3 linked regions of the Homo sapiens genome follow. The protein of the gene in region 1 interacts with the protein of each later gene in a pairwise test. Each region holds a gene or a part of one and is shown in the gene's direction. Other genes may lie near its edges. The genes, in order: TBC1D1, APPL2 and SYTL4.

The links.
Region 2: the proteins of TBC1D1 (region 1) and APPL2 interact in binary tests that used the Homo sapiens proteins (3 or more experiments, as listed by UniProt).
Region 3: the proteins of TBC1D1 (region 1) and SYTL4 interact in binary tests that used the Homo sapiens proteins (3 or more experiments, as listed by UniProt).

What each region holds. Positions count from the first base shown.
Region 1 is NC_000004.12:38,046,952-38,057,518, forward strand, and holds part of TBC1D1 (TBC1 domain family member 1), read left to right. Parts: intron 1-2,666; coding exon 2,667-2,947; intron 2,948-4,947; coding exon 4,948-5,109; intron 5,110-6,154; coding exon 6,155-6,274; intron 6,275-7,247; coding exon 7,248-7,387; intron 7,388-7,723; exon of another isoform or gene 7,724-7,799; coding exon of another isoform or gene 7,800-8,038; intron 8,039-8,828; coding exon of another isoform or gene 8,829-9,015; exon of another isoform or gene 9,016-9,198; intron 9,199-10,567. Other genes in the region: uncharacterized protein LOC124900692, read right to left, coding at 7,800-8,038, 8,829-9,015. UniProt on the Homo sapiens protein: May act as a GTPase-activating protein for Rab family protein(s). May play a role in the cell cycle and differentiation of various tissues.
Region 2 is NC_000012.12:105,187,608-105,198,174, reverse strand, and holds part of APPL2 (DCC-interacting protein 13-beta), read left to right. Parts: intron 1-221; coding exon 222-410; intron 411-2,547; coding exon 2,548-2,590; intron 2,591-2,648; coding exon of another isoform or gene 2,649-2,673; coding exon 2,674-2,730; intron 2,731-2,825; coding exon 2,826-2,914; intron 2,915-8,019; coding exon 8,020-8,184; intron 8,185-8,350; coding exon 8,351-8,403; intron 8,404-9,727; coding exon 9,728-9,902; intron 9,903-10,567. UniProt on the Homo sapiens protein: Multifunctional adapter protein that binds to various membrane receptors, nuclear factors and signaling proteins to regulate many processes, such as cell proliferation, immune response, endosomal trafficking and cell metabolism.
Region 3 is NC_000023.11:100,687,122-100,697,688, reverse strand, and holds part of SYTL4 (synaptotagmin-like protein 4), read left to right. Parts: intron 1-6,479; coding exon 6,480-6,581; intron 6,582-7,050; coding exon 7,051-7,126; intron 7,127-7,523; coding exon 7,524-7,614; intron 7,615-7,729; coding exon 7,730-7,833; intron 7,834-9,245; coding exon 9,246-9,338; intron 9,339-10,443; coding exon 10,444-10,567. UniProt on the Homo sapiens protein: Modulates exocytosis of dense-core granules and secretion of hormones in the pancreas and the pituitary. Interacts with vesicles containing negatively charged phospholipids in a Ca(2+)-independent manner.

The sequences.
Region 1 (10,567 bases):
TGCCATCCCTCCTAGACATATGGCTTTCAGAATTTTTCTAACCTACAGTAAGAAGCACATTTAACATTGTGGCGTAGTTCACAAACACACATACCTACACATTCACACACAAAATTAAAAGTTCACAAAACAATATTTACTGTGAACAACATACAATACATACTGATATTTTGTTCTATTTTATTTTTAAAATGCTCATGGCAAACTACTCAGTTGTACCACCTACTAACATGATAGAGGGAGCAGTTTGAGAAACACTTCCTTAGATGGATGAGTGCTTCTCAAATTTCAGGTGCTCCGCCTCCCGGGTTCAGGCCATTCTCTTGCCTCAGCCTCCTGAGTAGCTGAGACTGGTTAAAGTGCAGATTCTGGTTCAGTAGGCAGGGTGGGGGGAGCCCTGAAATGCTGCATTTCTGACAAGCTCCAAGGCAATGCTGCTGCTCCTGGTCTGCAGACCGCCTCTGGGGAGTGAGGTCCTAGACAGCAGTCTTGTAAATGTGAGTTTCTGAGTTAAAATCCAGGGGAACATAGTGTCGTCCAGCCTCCATCTAATACACACTGATCCCACCCTGCAATTCATTGCAAGTGTGGGAAGGCTATTTGCTTATTTGTTGTGTACAGATGAACCACACACCGCCCCTTTCATGTAGGAAGTTACCTAGGAGGAGAGAGATGACAGATACAGAAACAGCCCCAGCATCAAGCAGAGTGTGGTAGGAGCCCAGAAGTTACAAATAAGAGACATTGGTAACTTCAGTGTCAGAAGAGCAAGGGGAAGGGAAGTTAGGTTTGGTCAGTGGAACCAGGGAAAAGGTGAGGGGTGAGGGGGCAGTGATGCTTTTGGACTAAATCTTGGTGTAGGAATTGTGCCTATGGAAGTGAACAGAGAAGAAGGCATTCTAGACAGACCAGTGTCAATAGACATACCATGAAGACATTCATGTCACTCAGTGGGCTTTCCAGTAAGCCTTATTGCTTGCTTTTTATTTTTCTCCAAAAGGCAGATCTAGGAATATATACATATTCATTCTTCAGGACTCGATAGTTGTGAAGATTCTTTTAAAAGGATTTAAAAGTCTGTCTAAGATTGCAATTTCTAGAGTCATTCTAAGAGAGATGCAACTTTTCAGAAGCTGCTTGTATGTATTGTATATGTTTAAGTGTACTTTACATCTTTCTTTTATTCATCTTGAATTGAGAAACTACTATATTCTATTTTATGTAATTGGATCCCTTCTAAAAAATTGATCACCTAGGAGTTGCAAAGAAACCAAATAGCCCTGAAACTTGACAAATGAAAATGGCCCTTTCAGTTGTCCAATTAAGCTAAGGGTTAGCTCTTTGATATGATTTGGAGGGATATTAGTAAGAATTTAGATCAACAGGTTTGCATGATGGAGATTGTGTTCTGTGATGTATTGTCTTAGAGAGACTTTTAAATCCTTAAAAGAATCTTCACAACTGTTGAGTCCTGAAGAATGAAAAACTTCAGTTATGAAAGTAATCAATATTTCATAGTATGTTGGGAATTTTTTCCTAATTCTTATACAATTAAATGTATGTAACTTCTCCCTTTGGTAAACACATTTCTTTTTTTTTTTTTTTCAAATTAAAACCCTCAATACTTGTTACCTAAAAGGCACTCAACTGTGTAAATGAACAGGTAGAATTCAGTCTCCAGTCCACTGTTAGATGCATTCATTCTTGTTTACTCTATTCCTGTTGATTTATTTTTTCTCTTCCAACAATTTCAATAGGAGCAAGCTGCTACAATTCCTCTTTTTGAATATTTTGAATATATTAAAAATATATTGGCCACTAGCCACGTCCTGGGTGCAGTGTTAAACATCAGTTTGCTTGAGTGGTAGTAGTTCATTCCTTTGAAAAAGCGTGCATCGTGAAGGCATACAACTTTAAAATATTGTCATGATTCTCAACAAATGTTTGAGCACTCACTCCATAGATTTATTGCATACCTAATAAAACAATAACTTATGTTTGTGTAACATTTTACAACATAAAAAGTACTTTTGGTTGTATCATCTTGCTTTGTTCTTGAAACTCAGATACATTTTTACTTTACCCTCTTACAGAAGAAATTGAGGTGCAGAAAGAAATTATTTGCCCTGAATTGCAGCAGTAAGTGCCTACAGAGTGATTTTCCATATTCTAAGAATATTGATACAGTTCTTAATCTCAAATTATGAAGTCGAATCTCAACAGTAGATCAGATTCGGAGAGAGCCTTAAAATGTGGGTTTAACATGAGTGAACACATGTGGCAAAGATAAAGAACTTGGTTAAGCAGTGGAGACAAGTTCTCCAGCACTCACACCCCTTAGAAGCTGCAGTAAACAGTCCTGTTTTCTAGAGAGAGGGCACTATTCATGGCGTTGTTCAGAACGTTACAGATTGTGGCTTATGTCCTTCACTCCTGCACTTGGCCAGTCTCCCCATTTCTCCAGCAAGCCAGCAGTGTGTCCTTGAGGAGCGGGCATTTATTTAATGGACCTTCATTTTCTTCTGCTTTTGGTGGTGGCTTCTAGATGGCATTATAATCAGAACACATACTTAGATACTGCAATGTTTGCCCGTGCAGGAACTAGAGATTTATAAATCCCACATATTCCCCATGGTGTGTCTGATCTGCTGTGTGTTTGCTCCCAGGAGCCATCTGTGTGTGAAAAGGAGGCCTTGCCCATCTCTGAGAGCTCCTTTAAGCTCCTCGGCTCCTCGGAGGACCTGTCCAGTGACTCGGAGAGTCATCTCCCAGAAGAGCCAGCTCCGCTGTCGCCCCAGCAGGCCTTCAGGAGGCGAGCAAACACCCTGAGTCACTTCCCCATCGAATGCCAGGAACCTCCACAACCTGCCCGGGGGTCCCCGGGGGTTTCGCAAAGGAAACTTATGAGGTATCACTCAGTGAGCACAGAGACGCCTCATGAACGAAAGTAAGATTTGTTTAAATTTGTTGCATAAATAGCTGGGGCATATCTGTGACTAGCCAGGTATGTGCATCCCAGGTATGTTTATTGAGTGAGAGAAATGAGTCAGGCTTTACTCTTGGTTTGGAGATAAAACTGGAAGCAGTGACATGTTCGTTCGAGCTGCTTGTGAGTATACAAGCAATGGGTACTTGTATTGTCAGGAAGCAAGTGAAAGTGAGCAAAAATGGTACCTAACATGCATAGTCATTACTCCTCAAACAAAGTAAGAGACGTTGTTGACTGTGGAACTTTGCTGCTGTGAGGAAGAGGGCAAGCGGATGAGTCTCCCCATCTGAAGCCCTGGAGCAGGGTTATAATGGGAGGGAGAGGCGCTGATCCTTACAGGCAGAGCAAGAGAGGTATGCTGGCCTCATAGGGTGACAGGGGTGCTTCAGCTTCTGGTCCTAGCTCTGCCGTGAACTAATTGTGACCTGGACGAATTTGCTAAATTCTCTGAATAACAAAATTGGAGTAGATGTTTTCTAAAATCTCTCACTGTAAGAATTCTAGATTCTTCTAACAAGATTTATTCATTGTAATAGTTGGGTTCCTGTGACCAGTTAGAATCGTCTGGTTATGGAGAAGAGTAATCAGAAGTTCCCCCCATTCCTTCCAAGTGTCCCTTAGTGATTCATTTAACTCTGTGTGCCAGAGACTATAAATGGACACAGTTATCTTTAAAAACAACTTTAAACAATTTTAAAAATCTCTCACCTAATATGAATCAAGGTCACACCTGTGTACAGTCGCTGCCTTCTTCTGACCAGCAGCCGCAGAAGTCCCAGGACCTATGTGTTCGTGTAGTTCATACACGGATCATTGAGAGTGTGAGTTAGTACAGAAGTGTTTGGAATGTTCTGAGTAAAGAAGTGTGAGCATTAACAGTCCTGGATGATGGAGCAGAGCCTCCCAGCTTTGTTTTCTGTCAGCCATTGGAAAGAGTTCTTGGTTCTTTGGAATTCAGCGGGGTAGTGGTGATCCCAAAAGCAGGGGACATGTCAGAAGGTACTGCTTAATAAATACACGCTTTTAGAGACACACATCGTTGGGTTGTAGCTGTGTAAGTTTCTTGTGTTTAACACCCTGTCTGCACATTACTTCTGTGCTGCCTCACCACTGCCTGCCCACTCCTCTGTTGTTGGCGTTTTCAGTGATCATTGAAACATTCCTGTCTGGAGAGTCCTAGTTCTCTTGTGAAGTCTGCTGTTTCTCAAAAGCCAGAGTTGATAGGACTTAGTATCAGTACTTTTCCTTTCTCCATGAAGAATGTAGCTTTATAATAGATGATGTCACACATCCGTAATGGGAGGGATGAGGAGATGCCTGTCTGTCTGCCTCTCTAGCATGGCCCATTCTGCTTTCTTTCCCCCTTGTGAGCTCTTTTCCGATTTATCTACAGGAAATAAGACATTGAAATTCAGGGCAGGATATTGTTCATTTTAAAGGGAAATGTATTTTTTAAAGTTCAGTTTTTTTTTGCTTTTGTTTATACTTTAATTAAAAATTTTTTTTCCTGCCAGTTCCTGAAAAAGAAAATAGAGAAAGAAATATTATTGTTCCTGGGCGAAGTGGCTCACTCCTGTAATCCCAGAGCTTTGGGAGACTGAGGTGGGAGGTTGCTTGAGGCCAAGAGTTCAAGGTCACAGTCAGCTGTGATCGTGCTACCGCACTCCAGCCTGGGTGATAGAGTGAGACCTATTAAAAAAAAAAAGTATTGTTGGGAGCATAAACACGTGGGAAATGGTCAAGAACGGCCGTCAATATACTCTGTTTTTCACTGAAAACTACCTTTGCCAGAGAGCGAGCAGAGATGAGGAAAAGGAGTGGAAGAAGTCCTCCACTCTGATAGTGTTACTGGAACAACGAGACAAAAGCGGTGTGCTCCTTCCACCTGTTTGCTCCGTGTCCCTGTCGGCGCCCCCTCTCCTGCTAACCCCCCCGTGCTTTCTCTGATTGCTGTTTAGTGTGGATCCTTCACCTGTGGGTGAGTCTAAGCACCGCCCAGGTCAGTCTTCAGCTCCTGCTCCTCCACCTCGTCTTAACCCCTCCGCCTCCTCGCCAAACTTTTTTAAGTACCTAAAACATAATTCCAGTGGAGAACAAAGTGGGAATGCTGTGCCAAAGAGGTGAGCACACTCACGTGGCAAGTTTGGTGTTGTCTGTTTTCCTGGGGAGTTCACACTGATGAGGATGTGCTGAATGGGGGGAATGTCCATGCAGGAAGCAGAGCCACTGTGTGTGTGTGTGTGTGTGTGTGTGTGCGCGCGCGTGTGTGTCTTTGTTTATATTTTGTCTTATTTTCAGCTGTCATTTGAACCAAGTTAATTTTACTATTGATGACTTTTCTTAAGATTATTATGAAAACAGATCTTAATGGCAGATTGGTTTGTGTTTGTGTTTGTTTTTTTTTTTTTTGAGACAGGGTCTCACTCTGTTCCCCAGGCTGGAGTGCAGTGGCGTGATCTCGGCTCACTGCAGCTTCTGCCTTGTGGGTTCAAGCAGTTCTCCTGCCTCAGCCTCCCGAGTAGCTGGGACTACAGGCACACGCCACCATGCCCGGCTAATATTTTTATTTTTTTTTGTAGAGATGGGGTTTCACCATGTTGACCAGGTTGTTCTTGAACTCCTAACCTCAAGTGATCCGCCTGCCTCAGTCTCCCAAAGTGCTGGGATTACAGGTGTGAGCCACTGCACCCTGCTGCAAATTGTTTTTTTATACTTATTTTCACATTTCCTTGCCCTAGTGGACACTTACATGCATGCGTATATACACACACACGCGCGCGCGCGCGCGCACACACACACACACACACACACACACACACACACAGGATAACATCTGTGTTTGATCATGTACACTGCAATTTGTGCCATATCAGAAACTTCCTGATTGATTTAGGGGAATTATTTTTCCCAGTTTGAAAGGAAGAGTTATTTGGAAAATGGATGGATTTTCTTTTTTAAAAAATTATTGATCCCATTCATTTAAAATCAAATTTTATTGGTGAAAATGAAAATTAAATCTCATTCGTGAACTACTTTTAATTTCTTACCTAGTTTTCTTTTCTTAGCATTAGAACAAAAATGTTTCTTTTATTTTGAAGCTTATATTTTATACTTTGTGTTTTTATGTTTCTTTATCCTAAACTCTTTTTTCAACCAAACTCTTAGCATCTCCTACCGTAATGCCCTGCGGAAAAAACTTCATTCTTCTTCCTCTGTGCCAAATTTTCTAAAATTTCTGGCTCCTGTAGATGAAAATAACACCTCTGATTTTATGAACACAAAAAGGTAGGGCTTAATTTAGATATATCAAGCCTGGGTGTTACTAAGTGTTGAATATCATTAGATATACAAGGGTGTTTTAATTACTATTTTGCCATTTAAAAAATCATTTCAGCTAAATCTGTTGTATCTTCTTTCTTATACTTTTTTCTTACTGAATGCCATTTTTAAAAATGTGCAACCAACCTGTTCTCTAGTTTTGACGAGGATTAGTTTAAGTGTTATCTTAAGAAAAGTCTTTGCCAAGTCTCTGAGACCAGTGTTTCTGGTTAGTGAGCATATGTCTGTTTCAAATCAGGATGTCTGATCTGTTCAGGACGTCTAATCTGTAAGTTGAGGGGATTGCTTACTTACAGGTACATAACTTGGGTATAAATTGGAAGGGCCTTCTCAGGTTGTCCTGTGAATAGGAGAAAACATTTATGATTGTGTTTATATATTGATAACTGTATTTTGTAGTTTAAAAAATACACACGTTAAAACAATTATCATCATCAAGTGACTGCATAGTTATTGCCTTGCTGGTTCTGTGTAATTAAATTGCAAGTTTTTTCATTTTTTGTGGGAATCCTTGGAGACATGGGCCTGTGCTGAGCAGATATTCCCATGCACAGAAGAGGGCAGAATGGGGCCCCTTGGCATCACCCCCTTTCCCCCTTTAGGCAGTTTCTCTTTATCAAAGTGGCACCAAGAGAGGCCCAATTGGAACTATGATATGTGGAACATGTTTCTTAATCTCTGTTACAATCGAAATCACTTAAGGGCATGTAATCTTTCTCTTTTCATGAAAAGAATTCTGTAAGAAAGCAGTTCTTTAGGAATGATGACCCACTGTGAGCTTGATATAACTTCTGTGATTGATTATTTGTTTATACAAAGATAGTTGATAATTTAGTGATTTGTTTAAAAAAATGTTAAGCTAACAAAATCCCGTGAATTCCTCCCCACTAGTCATAAATCAATCATCTTATAATTTTAGGGACTTTGAATCCAAAGCAAACCATCTTGGTGATTCTGGTGGGACTCCTGTGAAGACCCGGAGGCATTCCTGGAGGCAGCAGATATTCCTCCGAGTAGCCACCCCGCAGAAGGCGTGCGATTCTTCCAGCAGATATGAAGGTAAGGCCGGTACCTGAAATGAAACCTCAAAGAGAGCACGCTGACAGAGGACCCTGGGAGCCCCATCATATTGGTAAGAAAGCAGAGCGCCGTCCTCTTCAGTATTGGCAGGTCTGAGGCAATCACAAAGGTAACTAGGGAGGGAATTTAGAGGTTACCCTCCATTTCTTAGGGAAGGAATTTAAAGCTAATTTAGGGTAACCTCTCCATAAACAGGAGCAGAGCTCTGATGTTTAGAGTGGTCACAGTGTTAACCAGCGGTGAATCCAGACAGGTCTGCGGCAACCTCACTTCTTGCCTCCTAGGACATAAGGCAAAAGGAGAGACTGAGGCAAGTTTTAGAGCAGCAGTGAAAGTTTATTAAAAACTTCAGAGCAGGAATGAAAGGACGTCAAGTACACTTTGAAGGTGGTTAGGCGGGCAACTTGAGAGATGAAGTGTGAGATTTGGCCTTTTGACCTGGGGTTTTATATGCTGCCATACTTCCGGGGTCTTGCGTTCCTTCTTCTCTGATTCTTCCCTTGGGGTGGGCTGTCCGCATGTGCATTGGCGTGCTAGCACACGGGGGTTGTGGGGGAGCGTGCGCAGGGTGTTTACTGGAGTTGTAGGCGTGCTCACTTGAGGCGTTCTTCCCTGTCCAGTCTAGCATTCCTAGAGGAACGTCATGCACCAGGTAAATTCCGCCATGTTGCCTCTTAATGCGCATGCTTGAGCCCACTCGCCCAGCTCCCGAGATCTTATTGGGAAGCTGCAGCTCCCCAGTTTTAGGTGTTTTCTATCTACTGGGAGCCCGCCCTTCCTTGGTGCCCGCTGTGACCAACGATCACTTTAGAGAAACAGTTGACAACTGCCTGACCAACACCTGATGGTCGCCTGACATTGCTGGTGCATATCTGGAAAGGGCCCTCTCCTGCCGTCCTCATGTCTGACGAGCTACCCGCTGTAACCAAAGCGTGGGCTTCGGAGTCTGCTTTCAAATCCCAGCTTTTCCCCTTAGGAGCTGTGAACTAGAATAAACTGTCTAAAGTTACCACCTATAACCTGGGATTAATTATGCCTGTTGCCACACTGATAGAGACAAGGCAGCATGATATCATTACTGATACATTTTTTTTAAAGCATTCAAAATTCATAGTACTGGAAAGAAAATCAGTGATGCGAATGTTTCCAGGGTAATGTCACCTCCCATGCTGTGGAAGTCCTTCGGGTGAGCCTGGCCCCTTGCTTCTTTTGCCCCAGCCTTTCTATGTGGGGGCACCATGGAGCTGCCACTCACCAGCACCTTTTTTCCCTCAAGTAGTTTGTACCTATAAAGTATTCCTGCCGTGGGTGGCCCCTCGGTGGAGCTGCTGAGCCTAGCCAGGGTTTGATTTCTCTTCCTGCCAGTGTGAGCCAGATGGCCACATCTCTCTTCCCCTGCCCCGTGGAGAGGTCTGCTTACCGCAAAGAAGGGCTCTTCCTCCCAGGTCCTGTAGCACCCTGTTAGAGGGTGTGGAGTGGAGCAGTGGGAACCAGAGCCACCAGAGGGAGGCCCTGGAGGAGGAACGAAGCTGATTCATGTCTGAAAGGGGTGCCAGAACCCAAGTTTCGGTGTTTAATAAAGAGTGCCTCGGTGTTGCGGTGGCCATACCTCACAGGGCATGGTCGCTTGGAAATTTCTGCTCGGAAATGCTTTGTGCAGTGGCCAGGATGCGTTAGGGGCCACAGATGACTGCTTGCTCCATCATAGAACAGTTCCAAGTTTTCAAACGAGCATTCACAGACTGAGCCGCATCCTGCCTCCCTGTCCTCTGATTCCTGGCTTCTTCTCTGGTCTCTGAAGCCACACGGAAATGTGTTTGCATCTGTTTCCTGCCCTTCAGATGACAGAGGACCATGGAAGCTGCTGCCTCCTTTAGCTCTCTTCTCCAGGGGAATTGCCCTCGTCACTGTTTGGGAACCCCTGGTCCGAGTCCTGTCCTCCGAAGAGCCTCTGCCCCTCCTGGAGTCCTGAGTTGAACTTGGTGTTCACTTGGCCTCTGGCTCTGGCAGTGTGTTGCTCCTTCCGTTGACCTGCCACTGCTCTGTTAATGCAGATTGATCTTCATAATCTGTTTCTGCTTTAAGTGATTAACTCAAACATTCTTGGCTCTTATTCTATCTTGTCCTTTGGGATATGAACCATTATTTAAATTTGGACTGGTTTCCTGGCTTGGCACAGTTGACCATGCCTGTAAGCTCAGTGCTTTGGGAGGCCAAGGCAGGAGGATCCCTGGAGGCCAGGAGTTCGAGGCCACCCTTGGCAACATAGTGAGACCCTGTCTCTACAAAAAAATAAAAATTAGCTGAGCGTGGTGTTGTGAAGCTGTAGTCCTAGCTACTTGGGAGACTGAGGCAGGAGGATTACTTGAGCCCAGGAGTTTGAGTTTACAGTGAGCTGTGATCACACCCCTGCACTCCAGCCTGGGCAACAGAGTGAGACCTTGTCTCGCGGGGTGGGGGAGTCATGTCTATACTTGAGAAGTTTTTTTCCCTCGCATAGTTTGTACCTATAAAGTATTCATCAGTTTTGAGCAGTCCTTTTGCGATTGTTTTGAGTCTTGAGTCTGGTGACCAGTAAGTTGTATATATTTGCCTGTCAAGTGGACAAACATGGCCTTTGTGCCTTTAAGTAATGGCTAAAAGTACCAAACAGAACAGGGCCTGGCATAGATGCTGCTCCTCCTGTTCCTAGGCCGTAATCACCCCTGATTCATCAGACCCCAAACAAGTCAGCTCCTCTCCCTCCTGTGCCCCACCACCCAATCTCCTGCAGGAAGATGTCTAGAGACCCCTGTCAGCGCTAGGCAGAGATCACCATCCATGTCCACCTTTCCTCTGATGCAGGTTCCCACTAGCCCCTCTGGCTTGTGCCATGCCAGCCATGAACTCACCCTCATGCCCCACCCGAGCCCTGGCACAGGCTATTCCCTCTGCCTGGAATGCTCTTCGTCAGTATCCCCATGGCTCCCTCCCTCCCCTTCCCTTGTATCCTGACTCTCCCATAGCAGCTCTCTCCCTGTAACACATGTTCACAGGTTCATCTTTGTCACCCATCTCCGGCAGCTCCTGCAGGCTTGATGGCTGCTAAAGGCAGGCAAGTCAGTGGCTCAGATTCTTGCAAACTTAGTGATTAGTGATTTCTCAACTCCCTCCTCATGC
Region 2 (10,567 bases), on another chromosome or scaffold:
GGTGTCTCCCTTGGAAGCAGAGCCCATGATCTCCCAGATCATTCCAGCTAAATTGTACCCTTCTGCTGCTCTTTCCACTTGAATGGGCAGTTTTGCTTTAACGATATAAAGAAACACATTATTTCTAAAATGCCACCAGTACCCATAACGAGGTAGCAAGACTTGGAGGTGGCCGCTGGTGCTTTCTGGTACTAATGGGCTTTTTAAAACACAACTCACAGCAAAACAGGGCTGGTCACCACCACCTGGGAGAGGCTTTATTTCTTCACCCAAGGCGGGAATCTCATGTGTCAGCCCAGGGGAGCCGTGGCTGGAGGTTTGATCCAGGACCTGGACAACTGCTCAGTGATGGCCGTGGATTGCGAAGACCGGCGCTACTGCTTCCAGATCACCACGCCCAATGGAAAATCGTATGTTTCACGCGTTTTATTTGGGAGGAGAATGAGTATAGTGGTTCCACCCGTTCCAAGGGCCTCCTAGTTCATTCCTATGTGCCAGCCCTCTGTGGGAGAGGCCCCAATCTGGGTATTGTTGACCTTTCAGGAGGATGATTTTCTGCTCTCTTTAAACAAGCCCGCATGACCCATAAGGGATCCAGCCTGCCTTATCCCATATGGAGATAAGTGAGGGTTTGTCTGTGGCTTTGGAGAAGAGATGACCTACGTGTGTGAGACAGCAACAGAAGTCGTGCTTGTTAGCATAGATTCTCAGAGAGAGAAGGCTGTGGCTACTCCTAGCCTGTTGTAAAGAAGCATTTGTGTTTGGATTGCAGCAGGGGAGAGTAACTATTTTGGTAAGGACGACCTTCCTGAGAAGGCCATTTTTCCAGCAGAAGCAGGAGTTGTGAGAAGTGTACTCCACTGCAGCAGCATCGTCGGCTGCCAGGCTGTTCCCACATGTCCTGTGTACCTGAGGGGCCCCAAAGAGGTGGTACTTTACCAATCCGCAGGCTGTGGCCATTCACAGTAGATCCCATCCCAGTGGGATCCCCTCTCAGAGTGGTGGTTTTTAAACTGCTCCAAGGAGTTCAGGGTCCCATGGAGGGGCTTCAGGGTCCCATGGAGGGGCTTCAGGGTTCACCTGCCTGGGGAGAGGAGTGGCCCTGCCCGTCATCAGAGCCGCTCTTCTCACACTGCATTCTATTAAGATTTGACCTGAACAGCAGGGGTAGGGGTGGGGACGGCATTGGGATGATGTCTCTCCTCCCAGCTTGGCAGAGCAGCTTTAGACCTCATCCTTCCTGCTTTGGTGATGGGAAATGACCTGGGAATGGAGATTCCTGGATGCTCATCATGGTCCTTTGCAGTTACCTCCTCTGGGCCTCACTTTCCTCAGATATAAAATAGGGATAAGATCTATGTTACTCCATCTGCCACAGATGAGAGGAACAAGGGAACTGGCAGATGTGGGGTCTCTTTAAAAAGTTAAAGCCTCGGCTGGGTACAGTGGCTCACGCCTATAATCCCAGCACTTTGGGAGGCCGAGGCAGGTGGATCCCCTGAGGTTGGGAGTTTGAGATCAGCATGACCAACATGGAGAAACCCCGTCTCTACTGGAAATACAAAATTGGCCGGGCACGTTAGTGGTGGCGCATGCCTGTAATCCCAGCTACTCAGGAGGCTGAGGCAGGAGAATCGCTTGAACCTGGGAGGCGGAGGTTGTGGTGAGCCGAGATCACACCATTGCACTCCAGCCTGGTGCAACAAGAGCAAAACTCCATCAAAAAAAAAAAAAAAAAAAAAAAAAAAAGAGTTAACGCCTCCACAAAGGTAGGGCAGTATTACTGTTACCTTATTCCCGGGCCTCCATACGCAGCAGACTTTTCAGTTCTGGGAAAGGAGTGAATGGGCTGCCAAGTCCTTCTTTGGGCATGGTTTGAGGAGTGGCTGGGCTTGGAGTCCTGGTCATCTTGGATCATTAGAGGAGGTCAACAGGTGGATCTCACTGTACAAACACAGATTTGGGCTAGAAGATCCGAGTCCCGCCTTCTCATTTCATAGATGAACATGCTGAGGCCCAGGGAAACGGCCATGTTTGTCCAAGATCACATAGTGAATCAGGGCAGAGCCAGACCTACAAGCCCATTTTCTTTTTTCTTTTTCTTTTTTTTTTTTTTGTTTGAGATAGGGCCTTGCCCTATCACCCAGGCTGGAGTGCAGTGGCACAGTCACCACTCACTGCAGCCTCAGCCTCCTGGGCTCGATCGATCCTCCCACTTCAGCCTCTCTAGTAGCTAGGACTACAGGCACACGCCACCACGCCCAGCTAATTTTTGTATTTTTTGTAGAGAGGGGGTTTCACCATGTTGCCCAGGCTGGTCTCGAACTCCTGGGCTCAAGCCATCCTCCTGCCTCACCTTCCCAAAATGCTGGGACTGCAGGCATGAGCCACTGCACCTGGCCCTGGAACCCCATTTTCTTTCCCTCTCATCATGCTGCCTTCATGGCACTTTTCCTCCCACACCCCAGCTAAGTTCAGTTTATGTAGAGAAATTCCCAGTCACTGAGATCAGGGAAGCACTTAATTACTTAGACACTTTTGTTTCAGGGGAATAATCCTCCAGGCTGAGAGCAGAAAGGAAAATGAAGAGGTAAAAATTTTGTTTGTCATATTTCTTTCCTAACGTGGTGGGTGACTTTGGGATTCAGTGTTCTTTTTTAATGTCCTCTACAGTGGATATGTGCAATAAACAACATCTCCAGACAGATCTACCTGACCGACAACCCTGAGGTAATTATCAGCCACCGGCATCTCAGCCCTTTTCTCAACCTGGAAGGTAAGCGTCCACCTCCTGGGACTGAGTGTGTCTTCCTGTGGATTTTTAGGCAGTCGCGATCAAGTTGAATCAGACCGCTCTGCAAGCAGTGACTCCCATTACAAGTTTTGGAAAAAAACAAGAAAGCTCATGCCCCAGGTAACTAAAGGACAAAGAAAAACTAGCTTTTGTGGAGCCAAATTATTGATTAGGAATACGAAATGAGTTGTTGCTTAATCCACACAAACCAAGGCATGTTTTTCAGCCTGTTTAACAGAAGCAGTAACGATGGCTGGGAAAGGTTAAATACCTGCCTGTGTTCACACCACATTGTGAGTGGTAGAGCCAGGATTCAAGCCTGTCTGATGTCAGCATCCCTGTCCTTTCCACTGGACCATGCTGCTGCAGTCCAAGCAAACAGGACGTGCATGGAGGGTCCTCCTAGTCAGGAGTTCTCCCCACATTTTCTATCAGTGTCAACAAAGTAAGGGAACGAAAGCAAAAATGTTTTTAAAAAATAAGGAAAAAAAAATCGCCTTTTATGTATCCCATGTTAATGTCCACGCCTTATCTGAACATACAGTGATAGTTTTATATGTACATTTATTTTGTATTTGCACATACTTTTTTTTTTTTTAACTATTTCTACATTTTTCAGAATTGTTCCTTTTAGTAACTACACCCTATTCCATCATTTATTTTTTTACTTACTTATTTTTTAATTTTTTCGAGACGGAGTCTCACTCTGTCACCTGGGCTGGAGTGCAGTGGAGTAATCCCGGCTCACTGCAACCGCCACTTCCCAGATTCAAGTGATTCTCCTGCCTCAGCCTCCCGAGTAGCTGGGATTACAGGCGCCCACCACCACACCTGGCTAATTTTTGTATTTTTAATAGAGATGGGGTTTCACTATGTTAGCCAGGCTGGTCTTGAACTCCTGACCTCAAGTGATCCACCCGCCTCAGCTTCCCAAAGTGCTGGGATTACAGGCATGAGCCACTGCGCCTGGCCCATTCTACCATTTATTAACCATTGAATATTTAGGTTATCTCCCTGGCGTTTACTGTTATCATTTAGAGCAAACATTTTCATGCATACAGCTTTCCTCATTTTGAATAGTGCTTTAGGATTTATTCCAGGAATCCTACCTTTTGTCTTAATGGGAGTTTCCATCTGGTTAAATAGTAGAGGATTGTATTTTCATACTAATGAAAGCCTGGCATTAAAGGGTAAATTAAAATTACGACTATATTTGGTGTTCATCTTTTAGTGGCATGGTAGAAAGAACCCCATTACATTTTTTACAAATATCTAATGACCCCAGAAGGAAGTCATTAGAAAACTCAGTGGTTAAGTAACTTCCCAGAATCTGTGCAGTGTGGAGCCAGCGTTCACATGCCGGGCACGGGGTATCTGAGAAGGAATGGGAGAAGGTAAGGCCAGAAAATAGGTTTGAGTCTAACTGGAAAGACCTGGGTGCCCTGCTTAGGAGTTACAGGCAATGGAGCAAAATGGAAGGTTTTGAGAAAATGGGCGATGGTCAGAACCAGGGTTAGGGAAGACTATTCTGTACCTGAGTAGGATAAATTTTAGGATACAGGTTGTGGGAAGAAGGGGAGAGTGCAAGACCCAGTAGGATGTTGATGTAGTAGTAGCTGTGAAGCAGAACATGAGAACGTAAACAAATGTTTTTAAAAAAGAGGAGAAAGAGGCAACAAGTCCGAGAAACATTTCAGCACCGTAACTTAAGGATTTAACAGTTGATACAAGTAGCATGCTTTATGAAATGGAACTCTAAGGAAGACACTATATGAAAGGAAGTGGAACTAAAGATCCAGTCAGCGAGGGTTAATCCCGTAGCCTTCTCCTGGGTAAATGTATGTCTTCTCTTTGTAAAGTTACAAAAATGTTTGATGTGCACAATGGAGGGAATACCAGACCTGCAGTTGAGAGACATGGGTTCTAACGATATCTCTGCCTTGTGTTATACACAGCTAGATGTCCCTGAGTAAGTCAGTAAATGCTCTGGGCCTTTGTCTTCTCAGCCTTGTGACATACAGGGAACTAGCTAACCTCCTAGGACCCTTCTAGCTCTGATATGCCATCTCTCAAGGGTGTTGATGGATAGTTTAGGGGGGTTTGGAATTAGAAGGTGTGATACGTTTCCTAAAAAGACAATTTGCAGCCTATATTTAATTATTCAGTAACTGACTTTTCCCCCTATTCTAGAATAAGCAAGTCACATTCTTAGACCAAAAGGACCCCACAGAAGGGACACAGAAGACTCCCTGGGGGGAAAAAAAATGACTCTAGCCAGCCAGCTGAATTAGCCCAGTGATTGGATGGGTGACAGATGTGGCTGCCAGATGGCCCCAGAGCTGTGGGGAGAGGGATACTATCTCTTTTAGGGTCAGCCCACTGAGAATAAAGCAATGTTTTGATGACAGTGGGGGGGGAAAGAATCAGAGAAATTGTGTTCTTGGGAACAAACTGCTATTTACTTCTAAGCAAGTACCATGTGTGGACTTCCCTCATTCTGCAGTTACTATATATCTGCTGTTCATTCATTTATCTAGCTACTCAACAAATATTTGAGTATCTACTATTTGCCCAGGCCTGGCCTAGGTAAGAAAACGCAGGGATTACTGGGGAGAACAGGCAAAAGGTAAGCACAGGCTGAGTTAAAATGAGGGAAGCACCCCAATGTTAAGGAGATGAGGTGCTGTCATGGAGGGTGAAGAGGAGACCTGTGCAGGGCCTGGCTGTGAAGATAATATTCAAGCTGCAAAGTGAAAGACAAGACGCAGCCACTCTTGCAAAGAGCCAGAAGTAGTGTATTCTTGGTAGCAGTTGTGGAGGTAACAGGACAGAGAAGATCTTAGTATATCTGAGGAACTGAAAAAAGGCAGTGTAACGGGACAGTGGAGATCATGGGACAGGATGAGGGCGGGTGGGGAGGGAGGCAGGGGTCGATCAAGAAGGAAGCATGTGGGGAGCTGTGGAAGGGCTCTGAGAGGTGCGTGTTTGTGATGGAGACAGAGATACCCACTCTCCATTTTCCAAAGTTAGTTAGCTCTGGCTGCTCTGGAGAGCACAGAACAGAGCAAGTCTGTAGCCAGTGAGGAGGCGTCCCAACAGCCCAAGAGAAGATGATGGTGGTTTAGACCAGGATCACGGCAGAGATGAAAAGTAGATGGATGTGGACTTATTCTGGAGGTAAAACCTGTGGGACTTTTGATGGATAAGCGTAGACGGAAAAGGACAGATCAAAGGATGACTTCAGTTGGAGCTGAACACCTGGGCAGATGGTGTTTTTTAAAAAAAAGAAGAGTTCATGTTTTGGACATGTTAAGCATGAGAGGCCTGTGAAACATCCCAAATGAGTTGTCAAGCAGTCAACGGATGATACAGGTCTGGAGTGCAAAGAAAACGTCTGGTCTGGGTGTATGAATCGGGGACTCATAGCACTGAACAGCAGTGGATGAGGTCCTCTATGGGAGAAAGGAGAGGGAGGGGAAAGCAGAGCCTGCAACAGAATCCTAAAGAACTCCAGCATTTAGGGTAGAAAAGGAGCCTGCCAAAGACATTGAGAAGGAACATCAAGAAAGGTAGAAGGAAACTCTGTAAAATGTGGCACCAGCCGAAACCGAGAGGAGAGTTCAAGGAGAGATCAGCTGTGTTAGATGCTTTAAGTCAATTATGATGACTGCGAAGTGTCCATTAGAGCTGATGACATGGAGATCCTGTACAGGTGAAACTTAACATCATGTCACTCCTATGTTCAGAGTCTTTGGTGGCTCCCTATACTGTTGTGTCAAGTTCAGACCCCACCTGACGGTATAAGGGCCCTCTACAACCTGGCCTCACCCTATCTTGATTGTTATCTATCTCCCCCCTTTGACTCTCTGGGGAGCCAAAATCTTAGACTCACTTTCTCCCCTTGAAGCTTCTACTCATAGCTTTCTTCAGTGCTTACCACTTATTATATCACAGCCCTCTCTTAAAGACAGGATCAAACAGATGTGACTGTCCCATTTAGGGTTATTGAAGCAGTATGACATCCTGGAGATGCACTCTCCTGGCAGTGAGGAGACCCCTGTTTATAATCTGGCTCGCCCACCAGGTAACTGAGTGCCTTCAAAACTGCTCAATTTCTCCAGAGGCCTCAGTTTCCTTTTCTGTTAACAATGGAGGTCAGACCAAGTGGTCTCCAAGGGCTTGCCTTGCAGTGACCATCTACAAGCCTATGTACTGTTTCATCCACATTCCAGTCATTATGATCATTTGTCAAATGCCTGTTGTAAAGTAGTTTGATACACTACATTCAGTTATTGACATGTTTGAGAAATAGGAAAATATTGACATATCAAATGAACAGAAAGATCACTGAGAGCTTTTTAAGGTCCAGGCAATGAAAGAAATCAAAATACATTGATATTCTTTGCCCTTCAAAGGAGTTTATAGTCTGGCTGAGGAGAAAAGATTTTTAAAACGTTGAAAAGTTAAATTACAGTATTCTGAGACTGGAGGAGAAGAACATGTTGGTTCCTGATTAGTCTGTCCACAGAGAGCACAGTATTTGATGGGCCACAATGTCAGCAATGAGTGTGGGCACAATGCGAAGCTCAGGAGGCACACAGGGCCGCAAGACTGTGCCTGTGACTTACTGAGAAGAATCACAGGAGTTCAGAGGAGGGAGGCGGGGTGCCGGCTGGCCTAGTGGATAAGGAAGAATTTGAGCTGGGTTGGGAGAGTTGGGTGAGCAGCAGAATTGGGATAAAGATGGAAATAAGGAAAAGCATGTGGTATGTGTGGTACAGCTCTCGTAGAGGGTGCATTAAAGGAGTGGAAAGGGAGGCTTTTGGGGAAATTAGAGCCAGATGGTGATTAAATGCCAAGCCAGGACCTTTGGTTCATTCAGCTAACATTTTTTAGTGCCTACTATGTTCCAAGAATACATATGACTTAGCTATAGCATAGGCCCTCCAAAACCTGCCTCACAGAGAAGGATACAGACAGAAAACTAGTAACACAGTGCAGGATGCTGTGCAGCAGAGAGAACTGCAGGAAATGGGGCAGACTGAAGGTTTTTAGCCAAGGATATGAAGGAAGTTTGAAGAAGGTTTATTTGTAGAATGGATTAAGGGATTGAGGTCAATCTTTCCCCTTGTATTTTCATTCATAAAAGTCACCTCAGCCTTCAACAAGTATTCACTTGATTATAAAAGCGTAAGGTTAAGGGAATTGATTTTTTTCCCCTTCAGCCAGAACCTGAAAAATTCAGAGATGGAAAATGAAAATGACAAGATTGTTCCCAAAGCAACAGCCAGTCTACCTGAAGCAGAGGAGCTGATCGCGCCTGGAACGCCGATTCAATTCGATATTGTGCTTCCTGCTACAGAATTCCTTGATCAGAACAGAGGGAGCAGGTATGGGCTGAGAGAGGTTATCTCTGGGAGAACTGAAAGTAAATTTGAGGTATCTTGTGTCCCCCTCCACCACCAAAGACTGTTGCCATTCTGATTTCCAGTTCAAGTGTTAAGTGCCCTTCTAGCTGCAGCTGTCGTGTTTGTTCAACTCTGGCTATTCCCCTAGGCGTACCAACCCTTTTGGTGAAACTGAGGATGAATCATTTCCAGAAGCAGAAGGTAAGTGACTAGTTTGGTGTCCTTATTCTTTCCTCTGCACAAAATGACAACGGCCATTGAAATAAGATGTGAAATCATGTTTTAGAGAGCTATGATTAGGAGTATGAATTAAGATTTGTTGTTCTGAAAGTTTAGTAAGATATCTGCAGTGGAGGCAAGTCTTGGATAAAAACTGAGGGGTAGCTGAAAGACCACCTACAGCTATTTCACCATTAGCCATAGCGTTTTTGTAGCATAGCATAGAAATGTTGTGAAATCTGAATCTGTTATCACATTCAAATGCAGTCTTGGTGAACTGGAAATACGCTGTGTCATTTTAGAAAACCAAAAGCACAAATAACTTGTTCTTGAATTTGAAGATGACACAAATGATATTTAAGTCTTTCAAATTCAAATTTTTGGTTTTTTACATTCTTATAATGTACTTAAGAACGTATCTGATGGCCGGCACGCTGGCTCACGCCTGTAATCCCAGCACTTTTGGAGGCCGAGGCAGGTGAATCACGTGAGCTTAGGAGTTCAAGACCAGCATGGGCAACACAGTGAGAACCCTGTCTCTACAAAAATATATATATATATACAAAAATTAGCCAGGTGTAGTGACAGGTGCCTGTAATCCTAGCTACTCAGGAGGCTGAGACATGAGAATCACTTGAACCTGGGAGGCGGAGGTTGCAGTGAGCTGAAATCATGCCATTGCACTCCAGCCTGGGCTACAGAGTGAGACCCTGTCTCAAAAAAGAAAAAAAAGAAAAAACCTTCTTTGGTCTTCTAGTTATGGTTGCTGGGAGTCAGTTTTGTCAAGTTATGCGCCACTGTCAGCAGCCAGGACTGACTTCCTTTAGGCTATGAAACATCATCACTGCCTTTCCGTAATACACATGAAGTATGAATTGCATGAGACCCAACATGAGATCTTATATCCTGCAAATAAAATTTCTTTTCTAAGAGGACTTTATCAGTGGGCCAAAGTAATGAATTTTCTATTGTCTAGTGAACTCACTCTTTTCAGAGAAAAGGTACAATGTAGTCACCTAGAGTTTCAGCATTAGAAGGATGTTCATCTGGTACCACCATCATTTCATTTTATAGATGAAGAAAAGCCTTTCTAGTCTAATGAAGTAGTTCCAAACAAACTGACAAGATGTAGACAAATGGAAGACGCAGAGCTTTGGCAATATTGGGCTTATAAAAGTGGTATTGAGAAATTTTGGTAGAAAGTCCTCCACAGAAAGCAGGCAAAACTAGCACATCTGACCCTGGTATGCAGATCAACAGCAGCAGGAAGTAAATGAGATCCTGAGTGGAAAATGCTGTCTTCCAGATTCTCTTTTGCAGCAGATGTTTATAGTTCGGTTTTTGGGATCAATGGCAGTTAAAACAGACAGCACTACTGAAGTGATTTATGAAGCGATGAGACAAGTATTGGCTGCTCGGGCTATTCATAACATCTTCCGCATGACAGAATCCCATCTGATGGTCACCAGTCAATCTTTGAGGTACGTTCAGTTTTATTTTCAGACTTTCTTATGGCTTCAGCTAATTCCCCTTTTAAGGCTAATGCACCCATCTGAAATGTTAGTACTGGAATGAAGAGACTACTCTTGCTTTTGCCCCCACTACTTTTTACATAAGATAGATAGCCTAGAAAGTGCTCCCTTAGAGACAAGAACTGGTATCTTCAAAAATCCAGTGGTGAGTGAATACTGTTGTTCACAAAGATGCCATCACACTAGACTTATTCTCTATATTATAGCTCAGAGCTTGAAAATGGAAGTTTTTTGGTTTTGCTTTTTTTTTTTCATTTCTGAGAGTACTATTTATAAAAAATAATGGAAAAAAACTTAAAAATCTGCCTAAATAACTTGGCCATCACAGAGAGAGCAGGCCATATTAACTACATGATTTAGTGTTTCAGGTAATACGATCTGGGTTTCAGATATGACCAAAATCCTGGTTATGAACATGGGTGTATGATACTGTAGCCACAGGTAGCATCTGCAGCAAAACTAGCCTGAACTGAGATGTGTTTTCAGTGTTAAATACATACCAAATTTCTAAGATTTAGGATGTAAAACATCTCACTAATTTTTTAGGTTAATCACATGTCTGGTAATATTTTAGATATACTGGATTAAGTAAAATTAATTTTATCTGTTACTTT
Region 3 (10,567 bases), on another chromosome or scaffold:
ATCTTCTTTCTCTCATTTTGTTTTATCATCTTGTATTTGAATTCTTGCACTTTATTGAATTTATATTATTAGTTCCCCTGTAGTGTAAAGCACTCACATGAAACCTACTTGTTTTCCTAGGGTTAAATTCTTCTCCAGACTCGGTTCTTCATCCATCTTGCAAATTGTTTTCATTTCTCTCCACTTCATGGCTATTTATATATCTGCCAGACTATTATTTCATTTTACTGAACTTTAATATGGGAAGTTTTGTCTGTATCTTTTGTTTCCTCTGATATAGCATATGTGAGTTCTTCTCACCTTAACTTGAAACAATTTATCTTTTCCCCATTCCCAGCTGTACTTTAGTTTAAGGACTGAATATTGCTTTTTATATTTCTTTCCTTGTAACCTGAAGGGGTAGGTGCAGAAGGCAACTTGGAGTCCTGAGTTTTGGTCTCATGAAATTCTCTTAAATGTCCTGGTTCAGGGCTTACCTGTCCCAGATCTGGGTTAATCCCCTAGCTCATACCAGTGCCCTGGGAGATGACATTTTGCATCAGTCTTGTCTGTCTCTGTTGAGGTTCTACAGTGGTACCTGGGGCTATAAATCTTGAGGACTTCTGTTTTTCTTGACTACTCACTCACTTAATCTGCAAATTGCTACATTGGAAAGGATTAGTTAAGGAGCTTTGCTGAATTAAATCTTCTGTTTTCTTAGGTGCGATTTTTGAAATCTGTGACTTGAGGCTTTATTTTTGACTCATTTGGTTGTGGCGGTGAATTTTTAGCTTTTGTATGGTGTGTGTGTGGTTTTTTTTTCCCCTAACTTTCACTCACCCAAAGGGAAATGACTTTATCATGTTTCATATGATTGTTGAAAAACAGCATAGAAATGTATAAAGTAAGTCCTCCAGTAACCTCACTGCTTCTTCCCCAGATAATTATCGTTAATAGTTGTGAATAGTTTTGGCATATGGACTACCAAGCTGTCTAAATATACATATATGGGTTGGGTTCCTAAGTTTTTAATTTCTTTTTCTTTAAAGGATGATACTATAAACATGTTAAGTGAAAAAAAGTGAAAGAAAAAGAACTTTAAAAACTCAATAATACAGACAATCCCATAGAAAATGCACAAAAAATTTGAACAGACATTTCACCAAAGACAATATAGAGATGTCAGATAAGCACATGAAAAGGTGCTCAACATCTTTAGTCATTAAATAAATTTGACCTAAAAATCACAATAAGATACTACTACATACCCATTAGAATGACTAAAATTAAAAAGACTGACCATGCCAATTGTTGGTGAGGATGTAAAACAACTGGATTTAAAAAAAATTTTCTTTTCTACATTTCCTCCTTGCTATTATAAACAACTAGCATTCTTATACACTGCTGGTGGGAATGTACAATGGCATAGCTACTTTGAAAAGCAGTTTAGCAGTATTTTAAAAAGTTCATTGTGCACCTACCTTGTGATTAAGTCATTTCATTCCTGGGTACTTACTCAAGAGAAGGGAAAACGTATGTTTGTACAAAGACTTCTACGTGAATGTTCATAGCAGCTTTATTTGTAATAGCCCAACCCTGGAAATAACCCAAATGCTCATCAGCAGGTGAATGGATAAACTGATTTGTTTATACGGTGGAATACTACTCAGCAATGGAAAGAAATGAACTATTGATACACGCAATAACATGAATGAATCTCAAAATAATCATGCTGAGTGAAAGAAGCCAAGCAGTAAAGAGTACATACTGTATGGTTCTGTTTGTATAAAAACTAGAAAATACAAACTAGAAAGCAGTGACAGAAAGCAGATCAACACTTACAGGAAGGGCAGGAGGGATTAGAATGGGGCAGGAGGAAACCTTTGGGAGTGAAAGATATGTTCATTAACTTAATTGTGGTGATAGTTTCGCAGATGTCTACATTTGTCAAAATGTCACGTTGCACACTTGAACATGTGCAGCTTATTTATGTCAGTTATTACTCAAAGCGTAAAAGAAAAAAATTGTAGAAGGATATAACATGAACATCTTTCTGTGTCAGCACCAAGGATCTGTTTCATTCTTTTGACATCTGTATGATGTTTCATTGTATATATGGACTGTGATTTTTATCTACACAGCCTTGGGTGGGTGACTCATCCGTTCCAGGTGATGAGGCCCCCTTTTTTCTTTGTGGATTAAGGATAAGAATGGCTTTTATTTGCTGAACCTGATTAACACATCTGACATCATCAGTCAGAATGTAATTTCTGAAACCTATTGCTTCTGGTTGTCTGTGATCTCTTGTCTCATTGGACCCAGAAGACTCTTATTTATCCTAAACATGAAAACAGATTAAGTGACCATAAATGATCTTTCCCATGAAATTATGGAGCCTCAGAGATAATTTAATTCAACCACCCTATTTTTGCAGAAAAGAAAGCAGGATAAGTGATTTACCTGAGATCATACAGATAGTTAGAGCCCAGGGCTCCCATCTCTTAGTCTATTTTTTACTGCACAGATGTCAAATAATTGCTTTTCTGCCCTTGGGTTGTTTGTATTAGCTGTGGATTGGTATGTATTAATCTTTAGGAAAAAAAGGAAAAACCACTCTCCATGGACCATTGTTAAAACTACCTCTCTGGAGGAATGGTTCTGCTTGGGTTTTTTTGGCGGGGGTGGGGGTGGGGACAAAAGGGGAAAAAGGACAATTCTAAAGTAAAAAATGAAATCAAGCCCCCCTGCTATGTCTTGTGCTATACAAGTAATACATCTTTCAAGGAATGACTGACATTTCACCTCTTGTAAGTACTAGGATTTCAGCCCTGCTGTCTGTTTTCACAGAACTGTCAAACATCATGTGACAACTTGGAGAGTTTATTCTTTACTGGCTAAGACATTATAGATTTTGGTTACCTCATTCTTTGTGCATCTATTAGTTTGTTTGTTTGACAAATATCTATGAATGCCTACTATGTGCCAGGCATTGTTTTAGACCCTGAGATACACTGGTGAATACAAGGCCTCTTGTTTGTGGGGCTTAGATTTCCGGGGTGGGAGATAAAAAGATAGTCAAGTAAATGTATGGTATATCAGATGTTGACAGGTGCTGTGGAGAAAATGAAGTAGACCAAAGGTATAGGGAGTGCCAGGAATGAATGTGTGTACATATACTGTTTAGGATAGCCAGGGCAAGTCTTAACAACAGGGTAACGTTTGAGCAAAGATATGAAAAAAATGAGGGAGCAAACCCTTAGGGTATCTGGGGGAAGAGCATGTAGATAGAGAAAGAAGGAGGTATAAAGACCCTAGGGTGAGATTTTGTTTGGCACTTTTGAGTAATCTGAAACTGAGTGAGCAAGGGAGGCTGAGGAAGGAGTTGAGGACAGAGATGGGATGAGAAGCAGATCATGTTAAGACTTTGGTGGCACTTGTAAGCATTCTGTCTTTTACTCCAAGTAAGAAGGATGGCTCTGAGGGGCACAGCCTTATTTTGTCTTCTTTTTAAAAATGGAGGTAAAGTTGACATAACATAAAATCATTTTAATCAATTTTAAAGTATAAAGTTCTGTGATTGTTAGTACTTTCAGAATGTTGTGAAATTAGATCACCACTATCTAATTTCAGAACATTTTCACCATCCCAAATAGAAACCCGATAGCCATTAAGTAGCCACCTCCATTTACCCCAGCCCCTAATATGCTTTCTGTCTTGATGGATTTGCCTAATCTAGACATTTCATATAAATGCAGTCATGCAATATGTGGCCTTTTGTGTTTGGCTTATTTCAATTAGCATAATGATTTCAAAGTTCATCCATGTTGCAGCATGTATCAGAATTTCATTGTCTTTTATTGATGAATAATCCATTATATGAATATACCACATTTCATTTGTCTAATCATGCATTGATGGACATTTAGGATGTTTTCATCTTTTGGCTATTAGGAATAATGCTGCTATGAACATTCATGTAACATTTTTGTGTGGACATATATTGTTTAGTTCTGTTGGGTAGGTACCCAGGAATGGAATTGCTGGGTCATATGATAGTTCTATCCCTGATTTACATTTTAAAAGCTCATTTTGGCTGTTGAGGGAAAGTCAAAGCCAAGGGAAGAAGCAGGATTAGTTAGGAGGCTACTGCAACCATCCAAGAGCTACATGATGGTGGTTTGGACCAGAGTAATGGCAGTGGAGGCAGTGAGAACGTATCAGAGTCTAGGTATACATTGAAGAGGATTTGCTGACAGATTTGATTTGTATTGTGAGAAAAAGAGGAGTAACCGATGATTCTTAGCGTTTTTGACTTGAGAAATGAAAGGGAATTGCCATTTGATGAGACAGAGCGAAGAGCAGTTTTGGGGGAAGATTAGGGCTTTGGTTTTGGGCTTGCTGTGTTTGAGACATCCACGTGGAGACATTGAGGAGGCCATTGGAAAAACAAGTCTGGAGTTTGAGTAAGAGATAAATTTGAGGCCGGGCATGATGGCTCACGCCTGTAATCCCAACACTTTGGGAGGCTGAGGCGGATGGATCACCTGAGGTCAGGAGCTCAAGACCAGCCTGGCCAACATGGTGAAAACCTGTCTCTACTAAAAATAAAAAAATTAGCCAGCCATGGTGGCACAAACCTGTAATCCCAGCTACTCAAGAGGCTGAGGCAGGAGATCGCTTGAACCCAGGAGGTGGAGGTTGTAGTGAGCCGAGATTGTGCCACTGCACTCCAGCCTGGGTGACAGAGACTCCATCTCAAAAAACATAAAAAATAAAAATAAATATATTTGAGTTATTAGTTTATTGAGGATATTTAAAGCCATGAGACTAGATGAGATCATTTAGGGATAATTCTAGATAGAGAGGAGGAGCAGCCCAAGGAAGAAGTTTGGACATAATCTAAATATTAGAGGTCTACGGGAGGAGGAAGGACTAGCAAAGGAGACTGAGAAGCAGCAGCCAGTGAGGTTGGAGGAGGAAACCAGGAGAGTGTGGTGTCCGGGGAGCCAAGGGAAGTTATTTGAGATATTTGAGGAAGAATCGATGTTTTTTCCCCCTTTTCCTGCTGCTCTCACTAATTCTTTGAGGTAAGGGGCCGAGGAACCGTATCCTTCCCTTGAAAGATGAGAACTGGTATTTTGAATGCCCAGAGTCATCCTTCATTAAGGCGATTAAGCTAAAAAAAAGAATTCTGGTCACCTGAATACTGTCTTCTAGACATACTGCTTATTTATGGATATATCTCAGTCCCACTGAGGGCATTTATTCAATAATTCAGTCAATAAAAATACTTGAGTGCATACTCTATGCTAGTCTCTCTTCAAGGCACTGAGAACACATCAGTAAATAAGATACGTGGTCACTGATCTTATGGAACTTTGTCGAATGGAGGAGAAAGACATTAAATAATTTGTTTAAATTATTGAACCAAATAAATAATTTGTTTAAAATACATAAATAGTTACATATGTGGTGACTGTTACTAGGAAATCAGGATGCTATGGGAGCACAGAGGAAGGTTACTAATCGAGACTTAGGGTGGGGGCATGGCCAGAGAGATCTGGAGGAATTGACATATAAGGAGAGACCTGAAGCAGGAGTAGATTGAGGCAGGTGAAGAAAAGTGGCCATTGTGAAAAGAATATCTTAGGCAGATAAAAGAGGGAAGATGGAGAGCTTCAGGATATTCAGAGAAACAAAATAACTTTGTCTTTCTAAAATATAAAGCTTGAAGGAGGAGTAGGGGGTGAAAAATGAGACTGGAGAGGGTGAGCAGGGGCCAAATCATGAGGATTTCTTGCCATGCTAAGGAGTTTCAGCTAAATCCCAACAGCAATGGGGAACCACTGAAGAGTTTTAAAAGTATACTGAGGGCCGGGTGTGGTGGCTTACGCCTGTAATCCCAGCACTTTGGGAGGCCGAGGCAGGCGGATCACGAGGTCAGGAGATCGAGACCATCCTGGCTAACACATTGAAACCCCATCTCTACTAAAAATACAAAGAAATTAGCCGGGCATGGTGGCACGCACCTGTAGTCCCAGCTACTCGGGAGGCTGAGGCAGGAGAATGGCGTGAACCCAGGAGGCGGAGCTTGCAGTGAGCCAAGATCGCGCCACTGCACTCCAACCTGGGAGACAGAGTGAGACTCCGTCTCAAAAAAAAAAAGTATACTCAGCTGGGCACCATGGTACATGCCTGTACTCAGCTGGTACACCATGGTACAGTTACTCAGAAGGCTGAGGCAGCAGGGTTGCTTGAGCCTAGGAGTTAGAGACTGTTGTGCACTATGATGGCACCTGTGAATAGCCACAGTACTCCAGCCTGGGCAACATTGCGAGACCTTATTTCTTAATTAATTAATTTATTATATGTTTAAAGTATACTCATATTTATTTTAGAAAGATCACTCAGGCTACGATTGTGAATGGATTGGAAAGAGGCCTGACTAGAGGCAGGAGAACCTGCTTCCTTTCAATATTGGCTCTTGGTTTTTATTCTAGTGTGCTATTTGAAGTGCCAAAGCTGAAAAGTGGAAAGAGTGCATTGGAAGCTGAGAGTGAGAGTCTGGATAGCTTCACAGCTGACTCGGATAGCACCTCCAGGTGGGGTTCCCCCCATTTCCCTCATCTCCTCTCAACCCAAGTTGTGATTTTGTTCTGCAGCATCAGTGTTCCTGACTTCTGTCCTCAGGAAGTTGAACGAAGTATTTTCTCTGTCCTCAACAGAAGTCTTTTCAGTAGCACGTCTACTGATTTGGCTCTGAGCACAGCTTCCTGGAACACATTGACATCTCTAGTCAATTCCCCCAGTATCTTGGAGTATTCTTCTTAGCCCAGTAGCAACTGATGCTGCTGTCCCTTAAGAATGAGGGTGTGAGTGTTTGTGTTTGTGCAAAGTTGCCTATCTGATCTTCTGCATTCCTTCCAGGTAAATCACATGCGAAGTGTACCTTCTGAATTTGGTTATTACGATGACCCAAGCCATTGGCTCTCCTTCCATAGAGCTTTGATCCCTGGGTAGAAGGGGAAGGGTAGGAGGTGACTTAGTTATAATTTCTGAATCTACCTCCAGGAGAGACTCTCTGGATAAATCTGGCCTCTTTCCAGAATGGAAGAAGATGTCTGCTCCCAAATCTCAAGTAGAAAAGGTAAGCTTCAGGTTATTGAGCCACCTTCCTCCCCTCCCTTCCTTCCCTTTCTCCTTTACCTCCTGTCTCCCTCCGTCTTTCCCTCCCTCCCTCCCCCTCACTCTTCTCTTCCTCTTTCTTCCCTCCCTCCCTCCATTCTCTTAGGCAGAATTTAAATCAGGAATTTCAACTAAACAAATTTCAGTTCAAATTCACTTGGGAGCATTTTCTGAAGTTTTGTTTGAAATGTGTGAGAAAATAGGTTTTGTACTATTTCTAGGCATTTAATCTTTCCTTTAAGTTTGTCATAGTTTAGCGAAAATCTGAGCCTTATTCTTCTTAAGACTGTCCTTCCTTACTCACTCCTTCTACCTATCCATCTGTTCTTTTCCATTTTCTTGCCCTTGTTCCTTCCTAGGAAACTCAGCCTGGAGGTCAAAATGTGGTATTTGTGGATGAGGGTGAGATGATATTTAAGAAGAACACCAGAAAAATCCTCAGGCCTTCAGGTAACTGGTTTCCCTTACTGGTCTTTCAGGACTGAAGTTCTGAGTACCCTTGATGGGCTCTTGGTATGGAGAAGAATAGGTCTCTTTGATTTGGCTTTTTTGGTCTTCCCCTCAGAGTACACTAAATCTGTGATAGATCTTCGCCCAGAAGATGTGGTACATGAAAGTGGCTCCTTGGGAGACAGAAGCAAATCCGTCCCAGGCCTCAATGTGGATATGGTAGGTGCCCTTATATTTTACTTGGTCACTATATGAAATTTTACTTATCTGGAGTTGGCTTTAGTACCTGATATTCTCAGTCAACCTATTTAATTCTTTAAGAAAAGGCAACATGAAACTTGATACCCCCAAGTTTCTAAAGTAAATCTGGTTCCTGATTTGCTTAAAGGAAAGGACTGTCTTTGCTATCTCTTTTTTTTTTTTTTTTTTTTTTTTGAGACGGAGTTTCGCTCTTGTTTCTCAGGCTGGAGTGCAATGGCACGATCTCGGCTCACTGCAACCTCCGCCTCCTGGGTTCAAGCAGTTCTCCTGCCTCAGCCTCCTGAGTAGCTGGGATTACAGGTGTGCGCCACCATGCCTGGGTAATTTTTTATATTTTTAGTAGATATGGGGTTTCACCATGTTGGCCAGGCTGGTCGCAAACTCCTGACCTCAGGTGATCCACCTGCCTCGGCCTCCCAATTTTTTTTTTTTTTTTTAAGAGACAGCATCTCACTCTGTTTCCCAGACTGGAGTGTAGTGGTACAATTATAGCTCAGTGCCACCTTGAACTCCTGAGCTCAAGCTGTCCTCCCACCTCAGCCTCCTGAGTAGCTGGGACTATAGGCATGAACCATCATACCCAGCTAATTTTTTTTTTTTTTTTGAGAGATGGGAGTCTCACTGTATTTCCCAGCCTGGTCTTGAACTCCTAGGCTCAAGTGATCCGCCCGCCTCTGCCTCCCAAAGTGCTGGAATTACAGGCATGAGCCATCACGCCTGACCATCTCTTTTATTTTCTAATAAATTGCTGGATATATGGCTGGGGCTCAAATAAATACTTCTTTTGATTAAAATGTAAACAGGGTTGGGGAAAGTCAAATGGAAAAGAGTTATAGCTTCTATGAAAAACATTAAATATTCTTATCTTATTCTTTTGAGATATGAGAAGGATGGTTGGAATAGAGCTGGGAACCCTGAAATGGGAAGACATGTAAAAAGAAGGATATGAGGCCAGGCATGGTGGCTCATGCCTGTAATCTCAGCACTTTGGGAGGCCGAGGCAGGCGGATCACCTGAGATCAGGAGTTTGAGACCAGCCTGGCCATCATGGAGAAACCCTGTCTCTACTAAAAATACAAAAATTAGCCAGGTGTGGTGGCGGGTGCCTGTAATCCCAGCTACTCTGGAGGCTGAAGCAGGAGAATTGCTTGAACCCAGGAGGCGGAGGTTGCGGTGAGCTGAGATTGCGCCATTGCCCTCCAGCCTGGGCAACAAGAGTGAGACTCCGTCTCAAAAAAAAAAAAAAAAAAGAAGTATGTGTGCGTACACATACACATGGCAACTTGGAGCTTTAAAGGAAAGATATTAGTCTTTGAAGCTAAAGAAAAGTCTTTCTTTTATTAACTCTGAATTTATATTTATTGTTCCAGGAAGAGGAAGAAGAAGAAGAAGACATTGACCACCTAGTGAAGTTACATCGCCAGAAGCTAGCCAGAAGCAGCATGCAAAGTGGCTCCTCCATGGTAAGTTCTATTAGATCTGTGGTTACAGGCATGTTGGGGTACTAGGAAGAAAAGAAGCACCTCCCTAGAGCAGATTCGGGACCTGGGGAAACCATCCTAGTCACTCTTTTCAGGTAAGTAAGATCATTTGTTTGTTCCTATCCTCAATTTAGACTATAGGTGCTTAGTGTACATCTAGGTGACTTCCTGAGCCCCCACCTGGAGATTATTACATTACAGCTTGGGACATTTTTCATCACAGCTTTGTGAACAATAACCTTAACTTATCCTCTAAAGGGGTACCCAGGCTATGAAGTGAGCAAGATCAGATTTCTTCATCATAGCCCATTCCAAATTCTCAACATTAAAAGAAAGTGAGTGTCATGAGAGGGGCTCTGGCAGGGTTGATCGACATCAGGGTATGGTTAACAAGCAATAATACCAGTCAGGATAATGAATTTAAAGGGAACATTTAAGAATCAGGGCCTGGTTCTGTCATAAGCATGAAGATTGATATTTAGGGAAACAGGAACAAGGGTGAACAGAATTTGTTCACACTCACACACAGGAAGAGAATGTCAGCTCGCATGACCGATTACTACCAGAAAGGAAGGTGCCTTTTCACTTCTGGTGGGGTTTCCTCCCTCCCACTCACTCCCAGTTCTGGCCAAATCTCTTTTCTCTGTAGGCCCTGATAAGACATAAGGTGGATAAGAGAAACCCACAGATAATTAAGGCACCTTGTTTTAGTTAGTAACTAACCCCCTTCTAGCTGGTGTTTTAGTGTATATAACACATTCCCCAGATGGACTTAACTGCACCTTGCCTCTGCTCCCTGCCCACCTCCTGGGGCAGGTGAAAATGAACACTAAAATTTGTAAAAAGAGTTGAGGAAGAGAAGCTAAGAGGCTAGGTGAGCCATGAGCTGATTCATTCACCTGAACAATTTTGAGTGCTGGTAGTTCTCTCTTACCCTCTGGGTCAAGGAATGTCAGCAGCACTGGCTTATTGCAGGGGCTTCTGAAACTTCTGTTCAGTGACTGTGGTTTTATCATGAGGGAAGATGTGAGCAATGCGGGCGGGGGAGTGTGCCTTCCCCAGATGTTCGTGGGTGCTTTATCTTCAGAGTACGATCGGCAGCATGATGAGCATCTACAGTGAAGCTGGTGATTTCGGGAACATCTTTGTGACTGGCAGGATTGCCTTTTCCCTGAAGTATGAGCAGCAAACCCAGAGTCTGGTTGTCCATG